Regions from separate parts of the Homo sapiens genome. Here region 2 is linked to region 1. The links come from fine-mapping of genetic effects on gene expression. Tissue or cell type: whole blood. Region 1 holds a variant in brackets; the other region holds the start of a gene. All regions are shown on one strand. Distances are from middle to middle. Region 1 has its middle 43 kb from the start of DDX51. Region 2 holds the start of NOC4L (nucleolar complex associated 4 homolog).

Region 1 (8,321 bases):
GCATATGGATGTCCAGCTGTTTCAGCATCATTTTTGAACACATTATCCTTTCTCCACTTTATGATCTTCGCCTCTGTTGAAAATTTATTAACCATGTATATGTGAATCTATTTCTGGCATTCTGTAAGATTGTTCCATTTCCACGCTGTCTTAATTGCTGTGGCTTTATAATACACGTTAAAGTCAGGAAATCTAAATCTTTTTGTCTTTTTCATAATTTTGGCTCTTCTAGGTTCTTTGCATTTCCTTATGAACTTTAAAATCTGCTTCTCAATTTCTGTTAAAAGCCTCTTGGGGTTTTGATTGACATTACATTCAATTTTTAGATCAATTTTGGGAGAACTGACATATTAACAATACTGAGTCTTCTGATTCATGAGCACTATTAATGTCTTTAAAATTTTCTCTCTGCAGTGTTTTGTGGTTTTGATGTACAGGTCTTGCACATCTATCAGATTTATTCTTGAGTATTTTATATTTTTTGAAATAATTTTTTTTTGAGACAGGGTCTTACTCTGTCTCCCAGGCTAAAGTACAGTGGCACAATTATAGCTCGCTGCAACCTCTATCTCCTGGGCTCAAGTGATCCTCCCACTATAGTCTCCCAAGTAGCTGGGACTACAGGTGTATACCACCACCCCCAGCTAATTTTTTTTTTTCTGTGGAGATGGGGTCTTACTATGTTTCCCAGGCTGGTCTTGAATTCCTTGGTTCAAGTGATCCTTCTGCCTTGGCCTCCCAAAGTGCTGGGATTGCAGGCGTGAGCCATTGTGCCTGGCAGGATTTTCTCAGAGATGATTATTTTGCCTGAGAATGAAGGGCTTTAATCTTTTTCCCTTACAGTCTGTCTGTGTTTTATTTCTTTTTCTTGACTGACTGTGCTGCTACAATCTCCATGTTGAGTCCAAGTACTGAGAGAGGATGTCCTGTATCAGTTCGTTCTCACACCGCTATAAAGAAATACCTGAGACTGGGTAATTTATAAAGAAAACAGTTTTAATTGGCTCACGGTTCTGCAGGCTGTACAGAAAGCATGATGCTGGCATCTGCTCGGCTTCTGGGGAGGCCTCAGGAACTTACAATCTTGGCAGAAGGCAAAGGGGGAGTGAACACGATATGGCCAGAGCAGGAGTAAGAGAGAGAAGGGGAGGTGATGCACACTTTTTTTGTTTTAGACAGAGTCTCACTCCATCACCCAGGCTGGAGTGCAGTGGTGTGATATTGGCTCACTACAACCTCCGCCTCCCAGGTTCAAGCGATTCTCCTGTCTCAACCTCCTGAGTAGCTAGGATTACAGGCGTGCGCCACCACGCCTGGCTAATTTTGTATTTTTAGTAGAGACGGGGTTTTGCCAAGTTGGCCAGGCTGGTCTCGAACTCCTGACCTCAAGTGATCCACTTGCCTCGGCCTCCCAAACTGCTGGGATTACAGGCGTGAGCCACCACGCCTGGCTGGTGATACACACTTTTAAAATGACCAGATCTCATGAGAATTCACTGTTGCGACCAAGGGGGATGGTGTAACACTATGAGAAACTGCCCCCATGATCCAGTCACCTCCCATCTGGCCCTTCCTCCAACACTGGGGATCACAATTCGACATGAGGTTTGGTGGGGACACAGATCCAAACTGTATTACATCCCTTCCTTGTTTCTGTCTTAAGAGGGAAAGCTTTCAGGCTTTTACCATCGAGTATCATATTAGCTGTTGTAGCCACTGAGATTCTTTATCAGGTCGAGGAAGTTTTCTTCTTCCCAAGTTTACTATATAGAACCAGATTTTCACCTTGGATCTGTTTTCCTTATTCCTAAAGTATGTCCTTCATTTCTTGTACTGCACATCTGCTGGTGGTGAATTCTTTCAGTTTTGTACATTTGGAAAAATCTTTGTCTTTTTTCTTTCTTTTTTTTTTTTTTTTAGACTAGAGTCTCACTCTGTCACTCAGGCTGGAGTGCAGTGGCCTGATCTCAGTTCACTACAACCTCCGCCTCCCAGGGGTTCAAGCAATTCTCCTGCCTCAGCCTCCCAAGTAGCTGGGATTACAGGCGTGTGCCACCACGCCTGGCTAATTTTTGTATTTTTAGTAGAGATGGGGTTTCGCCATGTTGGCCAGGCTGGTCTCAAACTCCCGACCTCAAGTGATCCGCCTGCTTCAGCCTCCCAAAGTGCTGGGATTCACTCTAATACACTAAGTTCACTCTAATACGACGAATACGGATGAACTGCTGGTTGGCCTTCGCCTCCTCCAGCACGCGTTCTGATTGTTGCTGGCCTGCCTGCATGGCCCGGGGAGGGCTCCTCTTCCTTCTCCCTGCTGCAGCTCTGTTGTGCCCCCGGAGTATTCTGAGCCCGTTTTCTAGTTCCAGGCCTGCGTCAGTGTAGGGTGACAGGAAGGGTCCTCTGCTGCACTCCACCTCAGGAAAAGCACCGTCTGTGGAGGAGAATCTGAACTGAGGAGGAAGCCCTGCCCAGCAGCCTGGGGGCTCCCAGGGATGTCTGCTGCATGGAGACTGCAGAAACCTGTGGTGGGGCAGAGAGTTCCAGTTTGGCCGTGTGTTGACTGCCCTCATGCAGACTCTACCAGCGGCCAAAGCGGTGTCTGGAGACGACAGTGTGTGTGCCTAGGGCACACAGGCACGGAGACACCGCCAGCCCTTTGTGTTGTGATCAGGGCTGGCGGGAGGCTCTGACTAGGGCTGTGGGAAGGGGACGTGTGCACTGTCCTCTTTCTGAGCGTTGCTGTGGTGGGAGTCCTGTCACGGGGAGCAGTCATGGAAGAGGACCGGCCCCTCCTCCCAGGTACAAGCACAGGCTCCTGTGCACTCCGACTCGCTGTTCCCCTCATCTGGCCTCCCCAGAGCCCAGGCACTGCCTGCTAACCCCAGACCTTCTGTGGTCCACTTAGGACTCTTGCCCACCATTGGTCCTGCCGGCCGGCCCGCCCAGGCTGGGCTTTCTCAGGGGGACTCCAGCTGCCCTTCTGCCCCATGAGGAGACACTAGCTCCCTTGGCCTCATTCCCTTACTGGCAACTGAGGGTCTGGTTCTTAGAGTCCCTTATGTGTAAACATGTAAAGCTTGTGGCTGTGAGGTGTGTTTGGTAAGAACAGTCCACAGCTTTCACCAGATTCTCAGGAGTGTCAGTGGCCCCTTCCCGGTCAATAAGTTGAAGAGCCGGGGTCAGTCTGGCTGCCACTGAGGGCCAGGCTGCCTCCTTGTGTGCTTGGGTGGCCTGACTGCAAGGAGATGCTCTCACTCAGCCCTGGACACACGGTGCAGATGGTGTGGCGGGTCAGCCCCACAGGGCCACCTCCTCAGTCTTGGGTTCTCAGCCTCAGCTGGTTCACATTTGGGGCCAGAAGATTCCTCCTGGTGGGGCCGTGCTGTGTGTTGTAGGATGGTTAGAGACCTCCAGGCCTCTACCCACCAAATGCCAGCAGTTCTCCCACCCTTATCAGTTGTGACAACCAAAAATGCCTCCAGACATTGCCTGATGTCCCCTGCGGGCACAGTCTTCCGAAGTACAGAGCCACTGATCTATCTGATCTTAGAAAGAGACTGTAGTCATTGCATTTCCGTAGGAAAAGGTGTTCTGAGTTAGAAATAATGTACAAATAGTTTTTTGCCTTGTATCTTCTATGCACCTTCTAATTATTATTTTACTAGATTACAGTCCCTCATGTGCAAACTTTGCACACCTGGAAGAAGAGTTTACTAGTAAGCAAAAGCACTTTTTTTTTTTTTTTTTTTGAGACAGAGTCTCGCTCTGTCGCCAGGCTGGAGTGCAGTGGCACGATCTCGGCTCACTGCAAGCTCCACCTCCCAGGTTCAAGTGATTCTCCTGCCTCAGCCACCCGAGTAGCTGGGACTCCAGGTACCTGCCACCATGCCAGCTACTTTTTGTATTTTTAGTAGAGACGGGCCAACATCACCATGTTGGCCAGATGGTCTTGATCTCTTGACCTCATGATCCGCCTGCCTCGGCCTCCCAAAGTGCTGGGATTACAGGTGTGAGCCACTGCGCCCAGCCAGGAAAACCACTTTTTAAAAAGATGCCTTTTTTTCCGTGTGGATATAAAAATGCCACATAGTAATTAGAGAACATCTAGAAAGCATAAAAAAGTATAAAAAGGGAAAAAATCATTATAATCCACCTAACCCAGAGACCACCACCTGTGGACACATTTTGAGTCTTTTTATTACATCTTTAAAATTACATAATTTTGGATCTTGAATTTTTCCATTTAAAATCAAACATAAAGAGTGTGTTTATCAAGCACTCTTTATAGTGGTTTTGCTGGCAAGCGTCGCTTCGTGCCTGCCTGGCTCGCCACACCTCGTGCTGGATGTGAGCTTGCACCGTTTTCACGTAAGCACTGTCTACTGTGTCCCTGAGCATCAGGCGTTAGGAGAGGCGGCTTCTGTAGTGGGTGGTATCTTTGCAGCTTTTTGAATGTTTCCCTTGAATTTCTATGA[A/T]GGTGATGATGGAAAAGACATCAGGTCTAAGCTGTCCATAAAATGCATTTGTCTGTAATACATGTCCTTCATTAAAAAACACGTGGCAGTTGGGGTCTACTGTCATGGTAGGAAGGTGGGAGCTGGACTCTCCTCCCAGCCGGGGTCAGGCCACACCTGGAGTGCCTCAGGTGCACTCTGTGCCCGTGTTTCCAGCCTGTCTCTGGAATGACTACTTCTGAACAGATTCCCTTTGCCTTTTTCTACCAGGCAGTATGCACTGAGTCCTTCAGGACAGATTAAATGATGAAAACCGTCCATCAAGTGTTCAGTCTTCATGCAGGATCACATCCGTGGAACTGATGTTTTAGCACTGGGGTTGATAGTGTCCAAGTCCCAGATTCAGGGGCAGGCTCAGGACCTGTCCACGGTGTTGGCCTATAGTGAGGCCCATGGGCCTCGGAGCCCGTGTGCCTGGAGCTGGACCATGGCTCCACCACTTCGTAGCTTGGCCCGATGTGGGCAAAGGATTACCTAGGTGCCGAGGCAACAGACTGAAGGCACAAACTGTTTCAGTATAATAAAGAAAATAGTTAGAATAAGAATAGTCATAATACGAATCAGATACAGAGCTGATCATGGACAATTATCAATCATTAGTATAAACATTATTAATCATTAACTTTTAATATTACTCTGTTGCATTACTAATATAACCTAGGAATAACCTGCGGGTATAGGGTCAGGTGCTGAAGCGACATTGTGAGAAGTGACCTAGAAGGCAAGAGGTGAGCCCTCTGTCATGCCCGCATAAGGGCCGCTTGAGGGCTCCTTGGTCAAGCGGTAACGCCAGTGTCTGGGAAGGCACCTGTTACTTAGCAGACTGTGGAAGGGAGTCTCCTTTCCTTGGAGGAGTCAGGGAACACTCTGCTCCACCAGCTTCCTGTGGGAGGCTGGATATTCTCCAGGCCTGCCCGCAGTCATCCGGAGGCCTAAACCCCTCCCTGTGGTGCTTCAATGGTCACACTCCTTGTCCACTTTCATGCTCCTCCTGCACTCCTGGTTCCTCTTTGGAGTTCTTAGTAGATAGCAGAAGAAGAAATAGTGGAAGTCTTAAAGTCTTTGATCTTTCTTATAAGTGCATAGAAGAAAACGCTGACATTTGCTGCCTTCCCTCTCTGCTTCAGCTACCTAAAAGGGAAGGGCCCCCTGTCGTGTGATCACGTGACTTGCTTCACCTTGTCAATCACTTAGAAGATTCACCCTCCTTACCCTGCCCCCTCGTCCTGTATGCAATAAATATCAGCGCACCCAGCCGTTCGGGGCCACTACCGGTCTCCGCGTGTTGATGGTAGTGGTCCCCCGGGCACAGCTGCTTTCTCTTTATTTTTTTGTCTTGTGTCTTTATTTCTTACAATCTCTCGTCTCCGCACACGGGGAGAACACCCGCTAAGCCCTGTAGAGCTGGACCTTACAGCCCAGGGAGCTCATTTCTCGCTGCCTCAGTGTCTCTCTGTGTAAATGGGCTATCAATAGGAGTGACCCCATGGCATGACTGTGAAAACTAAATGAGATCACGTAAGGGGCGTAGAGAACCTTTGTGACCCTGAGCCACCGTCTGCCACCCGCTGGGGATGCCCTGCTGTGCTGTACTTCTCTCCCTTCTCCCCCTCCCATGCTCTTCATCGCTAGCACTTTCAGCCCCTTGCGGTAGACTTGGATTAGGCAGGTATGAATACTTCAGTTCGAGAAAAGTGTGAGGCAGGGAAGCTTCCGAGCATCTCTTGCTGAGCAGATATTCTGATCTGAGCCTTTTTTGCCCTGGGTAGCAGTCTCGTGCCTGGGGTTTGCTGGGCCCGCATTGGCCCCTCCTGAGCCACCTTTCCAGACACCTGTGCAGGCTCCGAAAGGCGCCCGGGCATGGAGCTCACCTCACTCAACTCTAACTTTTCTGCATTTGTTTAGGGAGCATTTCCTGAAGACGTAGTCATGCAGCACGTCAGCAGCTCCCAGAGCAGCCAGCGCCATGTCCAGTGGCCTGGGGCCTGCCCCGGCGCGGGCGAGGAGCAGCCAGCGTGCTCCCAGCCGTCCCTGCCCCTCACACTGCCATCCCCCAGCCACCAACTACAGCAGCTGATGGTGAGAGGGGGCCCTGCGGGTGGGCAGAACATGAATGTTGACCTGCAGGGCGTGGGCCCTGGGCTCCAGGGAAGCCCACAGGTCACGCTGGCCCCACTGCCGCTCCCCAGCCCCACCTCTCCAGGCTTCCAGTTCAGCGCTCAGCCTCGGCGGTTTGAGCATGGGTCTCCATCATACATTCAGGTCACGTCCCCCTTGTCCCAGCAGGTCCAGACCCAGAGTCCCACGCAGCCCAGTCCGGGGCCGGGGCAGGCCTTGCAGAATGTGCGTGCAGGTGCCCCTGGCCCTGGGCTGGGCCTCTGCAGCAGCAGCCCTACAGGGGACTTCGTGGATGCCAGCGTGCTGGTGAGGCAGATCAGCTTGAGCCCCTCCAGTGGTGGACACTTTGTGTTTCAGGATGGGTCAGGGCTCACCCAGATCGCCCAGGGAGCCCAGGTTCAGCTCCAGCACCCGGGTACGCCCATCACAGTCCGAGAGCGGAGACCCTCCCAGCCCCACACACAGTCAGGGGGCACCATCCACCACCTGGGACCCCAGAGCCCTGCAGCCGCGGGTGGGGCCGGCCTGCAGCCCCTGGCCAGCCCAAGCCACATCACCACGGCTAACTTGCCACCGCAGATCAGCAGCATCATCCAGGGCCAGCTGGTTCAGCAGCAGCAGGTGCTGCAGGGGCCGCCGCTGCCCCGGCCCCTGGGCTTCGAGAGGACGCCCGGCGTGCTGCTCCCCGGGGCTGGGGGCGCAGCGGGGTTTGGGATGACGTCCCCACCCCCGCCCACCAGCCCTTCCAGGACTGCCGTGCCCCCAGGCCTTTCCAGCCTCCCACTCACGTCTGTGGGGAACACGGGAATGAAGAAGGTTCCCAAGAAGTTAGAGGAGATTCCCCCAGCCTCTCCGGAGATGGCACAGATGAGGAAGCAGTGCCTGGACTATCATCACCAGGAGATGCAGGCTCTGAAGGAGGTCTTCAAGGAGTATTTGATTGAACTGTTTTTCTTGCAACACTTTCAAGGGAACATGATGGATTTCTTAGCTTTCAAGGAGAGACTGTATGGACCATTACAAGCATATCTTAGGCAGAATGATTTGGACATTGAAGAAGAGGAAGAGGAGCACTTTGAAGTCATTAATGATGAGGTAACAGTTCTTTGTTTTGGTGCTTGTCATGGGAGGCAGAGCTCAGGGCTTATGCTGCGTGCAGGTGCAACGCAGAGCTTACCATCTCAGAGCATGCGTTCTAGGCACTTCACTTTAAAGACACACTGTGGCTGTGAATAGTGGTTTAAAGTCCCTCAGAGTCTCCCCACATTTACAGAGGGTGGTTCCAGGGATCCCAGCACATGGCTGAACCCCCAGCAGCATGGAAACTCCAGTGGTGTTCAGTCAGGCACCTCTGTGGCAGGTGCTCACGGCGGCAGCGTCCTGGCACCTTTCTTGGAATGCCACCACATTTGCCTGCTCCTAAACGGTTGTGCCGTGCAAGATGAGAACCCCAGAGTCCACCCTTGCCAGCTGCCTGCAGTCAGGGCTGGCTGGTCTCAAAGCCAAGATTCCAAGTTCCTGAACACACATCTCAATGTCAAGAGTTTCTGAACAAGTTACAGCTCTAACTTAGAATATACAGAGCAAAAATTTATAGAATTTCATTTTCTTTCTTTCTTTCTTTCTTTTTTTTTTGTGACAAAGTCTTGCTCTGTCGCCTAGGCTGGAGTGCAGTGGTGCGATCTCAGC
Region 2 (8,321 bases), 42 kb after region 1:
CCTGTGGAGGAAAGGGGAGGGCTCAGCACCACACACTCTGTCCCCTCATCGTCTGTGGGGCCCCGGGCTCTGCCCCTGGAACCCTGAGGACAGGAAGCCCTGTGCATGCAGAAACCAGGCCCTGGCCCCGCTGACAGCCCTCCCTGGTGCCACGTGTTTCCACCACTGGTGCCCAGGGGCTCCCCGCCCTTGGGCCAGAAGCTCGAGGACAACCTGTGTGACCCTCTGTTGCCTTCTCGCTTTCCTCTTTTTCCCTCTTTTCTCCACGTGTGGTGACGACGCCCTCTCTGCAAACGCCCTCCCCAGAGGGTTTCATGCCGGACTCTGGTGCCCTTACCTTGACAGACTCCTCCAGCTGGGACAGGGCCTCCTCGTACCGAGGAACCAGCGGCTGCAGCAGCTTGCTGGAGAGCTCGTGCCGCTGCAACTCAGGTGCCCCAGCTTCAGTTAGCATTCGGAGGAATCTCCTCTCCTGGAGAGAAGCTCATGGTGGAAGGGGGTTCTTGGGCCAGCCCCTTAACACCCACCAACAGCAGAAACTCCCAAGACCCTCGCAGCCTCACCTGCACTTTCAGGAGCAGTGTGAAGGCCTGTCCAGTTTTCCCAGCGCGAGCTGTCCTCCCAACCCTGGAATCAAACGCAGCTATCTCCAGACTGGCCCCTGAGCCTTCAAGAGTCTGACGGAACGACAGCTTCTCTCCACACCAACCCCACCCCACGCCAGTCAAGACGGTCCCACATCAACGCCCAGGAGCTCACAAAGCCCCAGACCCCCCAGTGGCCGCTGCGCCAGCGCTCACCGGTGCACGTAGGTTCTCAGGTACTGGGGGGCGTCGTAGTTCACCACCAGCTCCACACCCTGCACGTCGATGCCTCGCGCGGTGGCGTCCGTGCTGATGAGCCTGCCGGGACACGCAGCATTGTGGGCCCGACGTGCCAGGAGCAGGGGCCGTGGCAGCACCGGCCCTGCGGGGGGCAGCTCAGGCCTTTCTGGGAACTGGCTGCCATGGGGCTGGGGCACAGGAAGCCAATTTGCAGAAGGAAGCACCTTTTAGAGAGCCCCAGGCTGACCCTGGAGTGGGCACCCCCACCCCACAGAGGCCTTGCCCCTGCCCAGGAACTCACAGCTGGATCTTCCCCTGTTCAAACTGCTTCAGGATCATCCTCCTCTGGCCAGGCCCGTAGCGCGAGGAGAACTCAGCCACGTCCACACCCCCAAAAGCTTGCACCAGCAGGAAGAGCCTAGGCAGAGAGAAGGCTGCGGCCAAGTGATGCTGGGACCAGAGGCCACCTCTGCCACCCCCGCCCAGCCGGGGCCTCACCTGTGGGAGTTCTCTCGGGAGTTAGTGAAGCAGAGAACCCTCGAGAAGCCCATCTCCAGGACCAGGTGCAGGACGACCAGCGGCTTAGAGCTGAGGCTGCAGGGCACGTAGTGGTGCTACAGGGACGGCAGGGGGTCGGGGTGGAGGTGAGGGTTGGTTAGGGGCCCCAGGTTCCCAGTGCAACCCTCTGCCCACACGGTATCCCACTCACCGTGAGCCCAACAGGAAAGGCATACTTCCCCGAATCCCCGTCCCCATCTGTATCTTCCAGGCCCCTGTGTGCTAGCCCTGTGGAGAAAAGCCGGGGCTGGTGGAGGCCCAGCTGCTGCAGCTTTTCAGGGTTCTGGGTCAGAGTAGCTGAGAAGAGCAGCTTCTGCAGGGGCATCTGGGGACAGCAGGTGCTGGAAGAGAAGGGGGTGTTGCTGGCACCCTACCAGTGGCTGCCCCGAACCTCCAGGGAACAGGATTCCTCATGCTACGCACTGTAGAGACTGCCGCAGACCAGGAGCAAGGTGGGTCCAGCTCACGTGACAGTACGATGCGGTTCTGTGCACCAGAGCTCAAGCCACCCTTATCTCTGGGCATTAAGGAAGGAGAGCTGTGTGCAGAGGACTCTGCTCAGGGGAGGCCAGCACCTGGGCGTGCTGCTGGATACCTGGCGGCTGTCACAGCCTGGGCCTGCCTTCGCTGGAGCAGGGCACAGGGGTCCGCGGGGTCCTCGCTCTGGAAGGCGGCCGCCACCACCCGCGGCAGCCAGGACTGATGCATGCTGTCAATCATCCGGTCAGCCTCGTCGATAATCTGCAGGAGACAGGGAGCCCGGGACTGGGTGGCGCGGCCCTGAGCTCAAAGCCCAGGCCCCTGGGGCGGGGACCTACCAGGAAGCGGAGCTGCTGGAGGCTGAATCCTGGGGTCTGGTCGATGTGGTCCACCAGGCGGCCGGGGGTGGCTACCACGATGTCAGCCAAGCAGCGGTACCCATCAGCTCTACAGACCAGAGAGCAGCTCGAGAGAAGGAAGCTTTCTCAAGGGCTTCCGGATAGCAAGACGCTGCCTCACCCCACAGCCCCGACTCCACCCCACATGGGAAGGGGGCCGGTGGGAGCTCCTCCTCTTCACGGGAACAGGTGGTTAAAGATGGTGGCCCCTCCTCTGCTCCCACGGTGCCTCAGGCCACCTGCAGGGCTGAGCAGGGACCCCCTGAAAAACCCGCACCCTGACACAACCTACGTTTTCTGGACGAGGCTCTCCTGCTCCTTGGCCAGAGACTTCTGTCCCGTAACCAGGGAGACTCTCAGAGGTGTGGCATCTGTGTAGATGTTGAAAACTTTGCTCACCTGCAGGAGAAGTCTGTCACTGGCCTGGAGGTAGCTGGTGTCCACCTACTGCAGCAAAAAGGACCCCAGATCTAATCTGGGTCCCCCAGGGGCTGATCGCTGTGCACTCAGCAGGGAAGCTGAGGCGGGCGGTGCCACGCTCCAGGTCTAGGGTCCACATACCTGCTGGGCCAGCTCCTTGGTGGGCAGCACAACCAGGGCACGGATGTGGCAGACCACTCTCGAAAGCAGGGCCTGAGGGGGAAGGAGCGCCTGCGTCAGCAAGGCTGTTACCTGTCCTCTGCACACCCGCTGTAGAGAAAGGGGACCCTCACACAGACCTGCACCACAGGGATGACGAAGGCCAGTGTCTTCCCACTGCCTGTTGGGGCAGAAACACAGAGGTCGCTAGGCCGGTAGCCACCTCTGCCCACCAGAAACCCACAGGCTGCGCTCTCCAGGAGGGCAGGAATCACAGCTGCCTGGACTGGATGAGGAAAGGCGAGAGAGAAGTCGTGTTTACGCCTAGGCCTAGGCCTGCCGCTTCCCTGCCTGTGACCTCTGGGCTGGGCTGCTCTGCTGGAGGCCTGGGAACCGCTCCCCAGAGGGATGGCACCAAGGCCCAGAGGAACGCCAGCCTCAGGAGACCCAAGTGGGAACCATGAGCTTGAGAGTGCTGAGACCACACTTGGCACCGATGTGGCAGGGACGCCTGACCCACGGCCACTCACAGCCTTGTGTGTGGGTGCCCAGGGAGGTGTTCCCTCAGCTGCCTGCCCGGGGCTGGGGCACCTGGAAAGTAGGACGAGATGCCGTGTGCCCGCAGCTGCTTCTGCAGGTCAGGATGGACGTCAGGGATGTCCTCGATAGGAACCAGGTCTTCGGTGACATTCCTTCTGACACAGTTAGGCTCAGCCAGCCACCTTGGCAGGAAAGGCTGGACCTGCCATCAAAAAGAAAGAGAGGCCAGGTGAGCGCTTTCCAGGCTCTCGCGCAGAAGCCCACGGTGGAAAAAGCTAGGGGAGGGAGGCTGGGGAAACCTCTGTCGTCTTCAGCTCCTTCTCAGCCCCAGGATGCGCTTTCCATACAGCCTTCAGAAGTTAAACAGTAAAAGCAGATGCCACTCCCTGAGCAAACTCACTCTGTAGCCTCCCATCAACCCACAGTGGCACCCACCCTCCCGCAGCCAGGAGGTCCTGTGACCTGGCGCTCGCCTGCCCCAGCCACGCCGGCGTCCCTGCCTCGAGGCCTCTGCCTGGCACCCCCAACCCCCAACCTTGACCTGGCTTCAAGTCTTTGCATCCCAACTCAAAGAGAACCTCCTCCACCTGCCCTACCTAAGGTGCCCGAGCACTCTGTCAAACTTCTCGCTTTCTTCACCTGTCTCGCCGGAAATCTCTTTACCGAAAACCACACGTGCTAAGCAAAAACACCAACGGTCAGGAGCTTGCAGAACGGCCTCTGACTTACTCCTGAGGCGGTGAGCGCACAGCAGGAAACCCCGCACGTTCACGCAAACACATCTTGCAGAACTGGCGCGGCGCGGCGGGAGGACAGGGGCAAGCCTAGCAGAGGAAACGGGAGCTCTGCACGTGCAGGATCCAGACCCCTAGGCGATGAAACTGCAGACCTGGCAGCGAGGCGCGGCTGTGACCCGGGAACATTCGCTGAACGAAATCTTCCGGGGCGACCGCCGCACTTAAGAATCCGCGCAGCCTACCCTCTCACGCCGACCACCCTCCCGCCCGCCGAGGCTCACCTTCGGCGCCTTCCTCTTCCCGAACCCCCCCAGCACCAGGCCGGGGACCAGGGGTCCGGCCGCCTCCTCCAGGGCCGGTCCATCTGGGGCCGCCTCGGCGCTGGCGCTGGTGCTGCGCTCCCCCGGCGCCTCCTCGCTGCTCCCTGCGCTGGGCTCCCCTGGCGCCTCCTCGCTGCTCCCTGCGCTGGGCTCCCCTGGCGCCTCCTCGTTGCTTTCTGCGAGGCAGACACCCACCCGGCAGCGCGTCAGCACCGAGTCGCCGGCGCCCCAGAGGGAGCCCGCTCGCCCCGCGGCCCACCTGCGCCCGCGTCCTCGCCGTCCGCCTTCCGTCGCTTTCCCTGCGGCGCCTCCGGGCTCCCCGGCTCCGCGTCGTTCACCCGCCGCCGCCGCCGGGGCCGCCGTCGCCTCCTGGTCGCCGGCTCGGTCGATGCAGCCGCCTCGGTCTGCGCGGGCTCCCGCTGCTGCTGCCGTTCGCGGGCCCGGCTCTGCAGCCGCTCGAGCAGCGCGCGGGCCCTGCCGTGCGCCCCGGCCTCCGCGCCCTCCGGCCCCGCCGCAGCTGCCGCATCGGGGCCCGGGTACCGCGCGACGTAGAACAGCGCCATGGCCAGCCGCACGCCTGGGACTCGGGCGTGGCGCGCTGCGATGACGTCGGCGGCACGCCTGCGACTCGGGCTCCGCGCAAAAGATGGGGTTGGGGTACGGCGCGTAGAGATGACGTCGGGTTCTACGCGCAGTGGTGACGTCACGGGAGCGCCGGCGGCTGAGAATCCGCGTTGTTCCGTGTTGGGGGCGGCATGGAGCGGGAGCCGGGCGCCGCGGGAGTTCGCCGGGCTCTGGGCCGCCGGCTGGAGGCGGTGCTGGCGAGCCGCAGTGAGGCCAACGCCGTGTTCGACATCCTGGCCGTGCTGCAGGTGGGCCTGGCGGCGTCGCAGGGCCGGAGTCGCGGCACGGGAGCGGGACTTGAATGGGGGGCTGCGGCGGCAGGTCCCCAGGAGGTTCCGAGACGGCGTTGGGGGGTCAGGGTGGGAGGCGTGTGGGTCACGGGTCGGGGGTGACGGGGCTGGCGTCCCGAGGGGGAAGGGAACGGGTTGGGGGCAGCCTAGGCAGGGGCGAAGGTGACAGTTGGCGGCCGGGCACCCTGCCGCCGCCTCTCCTGCAGTCTGAGGACCAGGAGGAGATCCAGGAAGCAGTCCGCACGTGCAGCCGTCTTTTCGGGGCCTTGCTGGAGCGGGGAGAGCTGTTTGTGGGCCAGCTGCCCTCTGAGGAGATGGTCATGACAGGTGAGCCCTGGAGGGCCCCGGGGCTGCTCTTCTCTTTCCGTGGGTCGGAGGGAGGCTTTGTCACCATGGGATGAGCGCCCCCAACCCTGGCACAGGCCGTGCAGGCTGGTGGGAGGACGCACCAAGCCCACCGTGGAAGATGGATGGTGGCGTTGGGGCAGGGGTGACATGGGTGCCCTGCAGCTGAGTGTAGATGAACACTGGACAAGGTACGACTTTTTGTGTGCTTTGCACCCCTTTTGTAATTTGATGTTGACTGATCCTGACACGGTCGCTTAAACTCGGAGCTTCCTTTATGTCCCCATCCTGGGGACGTCAGGTCTTGGAGTAAAGAGAGGGGATGTGGATCCTGCTCCTGGCAGCTTGGCTGGGGCAGTCCTGGGGTAGGAGGTGCTCTTCCTGTTTGCAGGGCTCAGGGAATGTGCTGGTCTCAGCACAGGTCTGGGGGCCTTAGCGACCTGTTTCCACCTGCGGAGGCTGAGTAGAAGACAATGGGAGGGTGGAGCCAGGCCTGAGATTTTGGGCTGGGCCCAGGGTGGCGTATGTGGGCCTCACGTGGGCTGACCACCCTAACCTGTCTGCAGGGTCCCAGGGAGCCACACGGAAGTACAAGGTGTGGATGAGACACCGCTATCACAGCTGCTGCAATCGCTTGGGAGAGCTCCTGGGCCACCCCTCCTTTCAGGTCAAGGTGGGTCATTGGGCTGGCCTCATCCTTGTCCATCCCCTGCACCCCAACTCCCAGGTTATCCACAAAGCAGAGGTCTGGGGCTCCCACAATTGTCCAGGCAAAGCTGCTTCCTTCATGGGAGCATCACCCTGTGGGTGTTCAGTCCCATTCAGAAACATGGCTATCGAGTCCTGTAGTGAATATTGAAGACGCAGAATCCGTGTTCATTTCCAGTGGCATCCACGGGGATCTCTGTGTTTGCATAGAGCACGCACACCAAGCCTCGTGCCAGTCCACAGATGTGTTTGCTCAGATCACACTGTGGTCTGCAGCCATGGGAATGCATTATGAGCTTTCTTAAAATCTGTAGTGAGGAATAACTGAGGCACAGTTTACCGTTTAAAGCTGAGAAGTTAGCATCTGTTACTGTGTTGTGCAGTGGTTGCCGCTATCCCAGAACATCTTTATCGCCCCGAAAAGAAATCCTGTACCAGTTACCATCGCTTCCATATCCCGCCCCTTTCCACCCCCAGCCCCAGGCAGCCACTCCTGGATCAGTGGTTACTTCCTGGATCAATGGGTTTGCTTTTTTTAGACGCTCCTCATAAGGGGGATCATACGGTATGTGGCTTCTTCCACTCATCGGCGTGTTCGAAGTTCGTTCTCTTTGTGGCTGAGTAGCAGCGCGTCGTATAGCACAGCACGTATCGTTCAGCCGCTCGTAGGTTGCTGGGCATTTGCGTCGTTTCCACCTTTGGCTGTTACGAACAGCGGACTGTGAACGTTCGCGTACAAACTCTTGTGTGATGTTTCTTTTGCTTGAATATGCCTTATCAGTGGAATTACAAGGCCACACAGCAGCTGTGTTTTTAATGTTCTGAGGAACTACAAGACTGTTTTCCATAGTAGCTGCGCTATCTTACCCTCCCCCTGGCAGCATTTGAGAGTTCCATACTCCACATCCTCGCCAACACGTCTGTCTATAATTATAGCCGAGCTGCAGACTTTTAAATGTTGGGGAGATACCACGTGAAAATAACCAGTTTCCACCTTCTCAGAAAGAAATAATCAGTTCTGTCAACACGGGGTCTAAGTTTGTTCATGGCTGCGATTGGCTGGAGGGAGAGTCAGAGACAGCTCTGAGACAGCCGTGTGCTCCTGTCATCCCGCACGAGGCTCTTTTGCTTTGTGGTGTCATTTGCCTGGGCCCTGAAAGCACTGAGTTTGCCACCCCGAGATGAGAGCTTCCAAGCCTGGGTCTGAGTTGGGCACCATGCTGGCATCACACGCCTGTGTTTTCACAGCTGTTCCCAAGGGTTATGGTGGCATTCCCGTGACACAGGTGACGAGAGAGCAGTCAGGTGGCCCATAAAGCAGACCTGGGCTGTGTACCCTTCCCCCGCCAGACTCTGTCGTGAGCACTGGATCTCTTTAACTAGAGATCTTGTCATCTCTACGTCATGGGTGGGACACGGAAGCCCAGAGTGGCATCTGGTGGCGTGTGGAGCAAGAGAAGGCCCGGCCGCCCTTTTCTCAGCTCTGGGCCTAGATGGGAGGGGCTCCCTGACTGGGCTGAGCTCTGGGCCCATCCGTGGGGTGAGGGCATCACAGCCACCCTGCACTGCCCCCTTCCCAGGAGCTGGCCCTCAGCGCACTCCTGAAGTTCGTGCAGCTGGAAGGAGCGCACCCCCTGGAGAAGTCCAAGTGGGAAGGCAACTACCTGTTCCCCCGAGAGCTCTTCAAGGTGAGGGCCTTGCTGGGGACTCCCAGAGGGCCTGGCTGGCTGGCCAGATCCCAGGATGGCCCCGTAGTGGGGGCGGGGCCTGCTGAGCTGAGCCTGGCTGTTGGCTGGGACACTCCTGTGGCTCCTGTGGCCCACCCAACCAGGAGGAGTCTGCCTGGGGGGCTCGATGGGGCAGGGCTGCCTGCCTGGACCTTGCTGGCGTATGCTGGGCCGGGCAGGGCTGCTCACTG

What was found. PIP is the estimated chance that this variant, and not a neighbour inherited with it, causes the effect.
Region 2: NOC4L starts here. The variant in region 1 is fine-mapped to the expression of NOC4L in whole blood (TOPMed, PIP 0.90).

The regions. Positions count from the first base shown.
Region 1 is chr12:132,097,578-132,105,898 of GRCh38, forward strand. It overlaps the pseudogene EP400P1. Among named protein-coding and RNA genes, the nearest start is that of DDX51, 43 kb to the right of the region's middle. The variant A/T (reference allele first, on the strand shown) is at 4,476.
Region 2 is chr12:132,139,298-132,147,618 of GRCh38, forward strand. It overlaps NOC4L (nucleolar complex associated 4 homolog), which reads left to right and starts at 5,160. Exons shown (of 15, transcript NM_024078.3): 1 at 5,160-5,308; 2 at 5,557-5,677; 3 at 6,262-6,368; 4 at 7,984-8,091. The coding sequence starts at 5,192. DDX51 (DEAD-box helicase 51) reads right to left here and starts at 5,022. Exons shown (of 15, transcript NM_175066.4): 1 at 4,696-5,022; 2 at 4,398-4,612; 3 at 3,431-3,581; 4 at 2,980-3,125; 5 at 2,822-2,893; 6 at 2,553-2,659; 7 at 2,201-2,309; 8 at 1,978-2,123; 9 at 1,534-1,723; 10 at 1,323-1,438; 11 at 1,126-1,242; 12 at 801-902; 13 at 564-627; 14 at 338-472; 1 more. The coding sequence starts at 4,999. RefSeq lists enhancers at 3,108-4,013, 4,943-5,242 and silencers at 4,613-4,812, 4,883-4,932.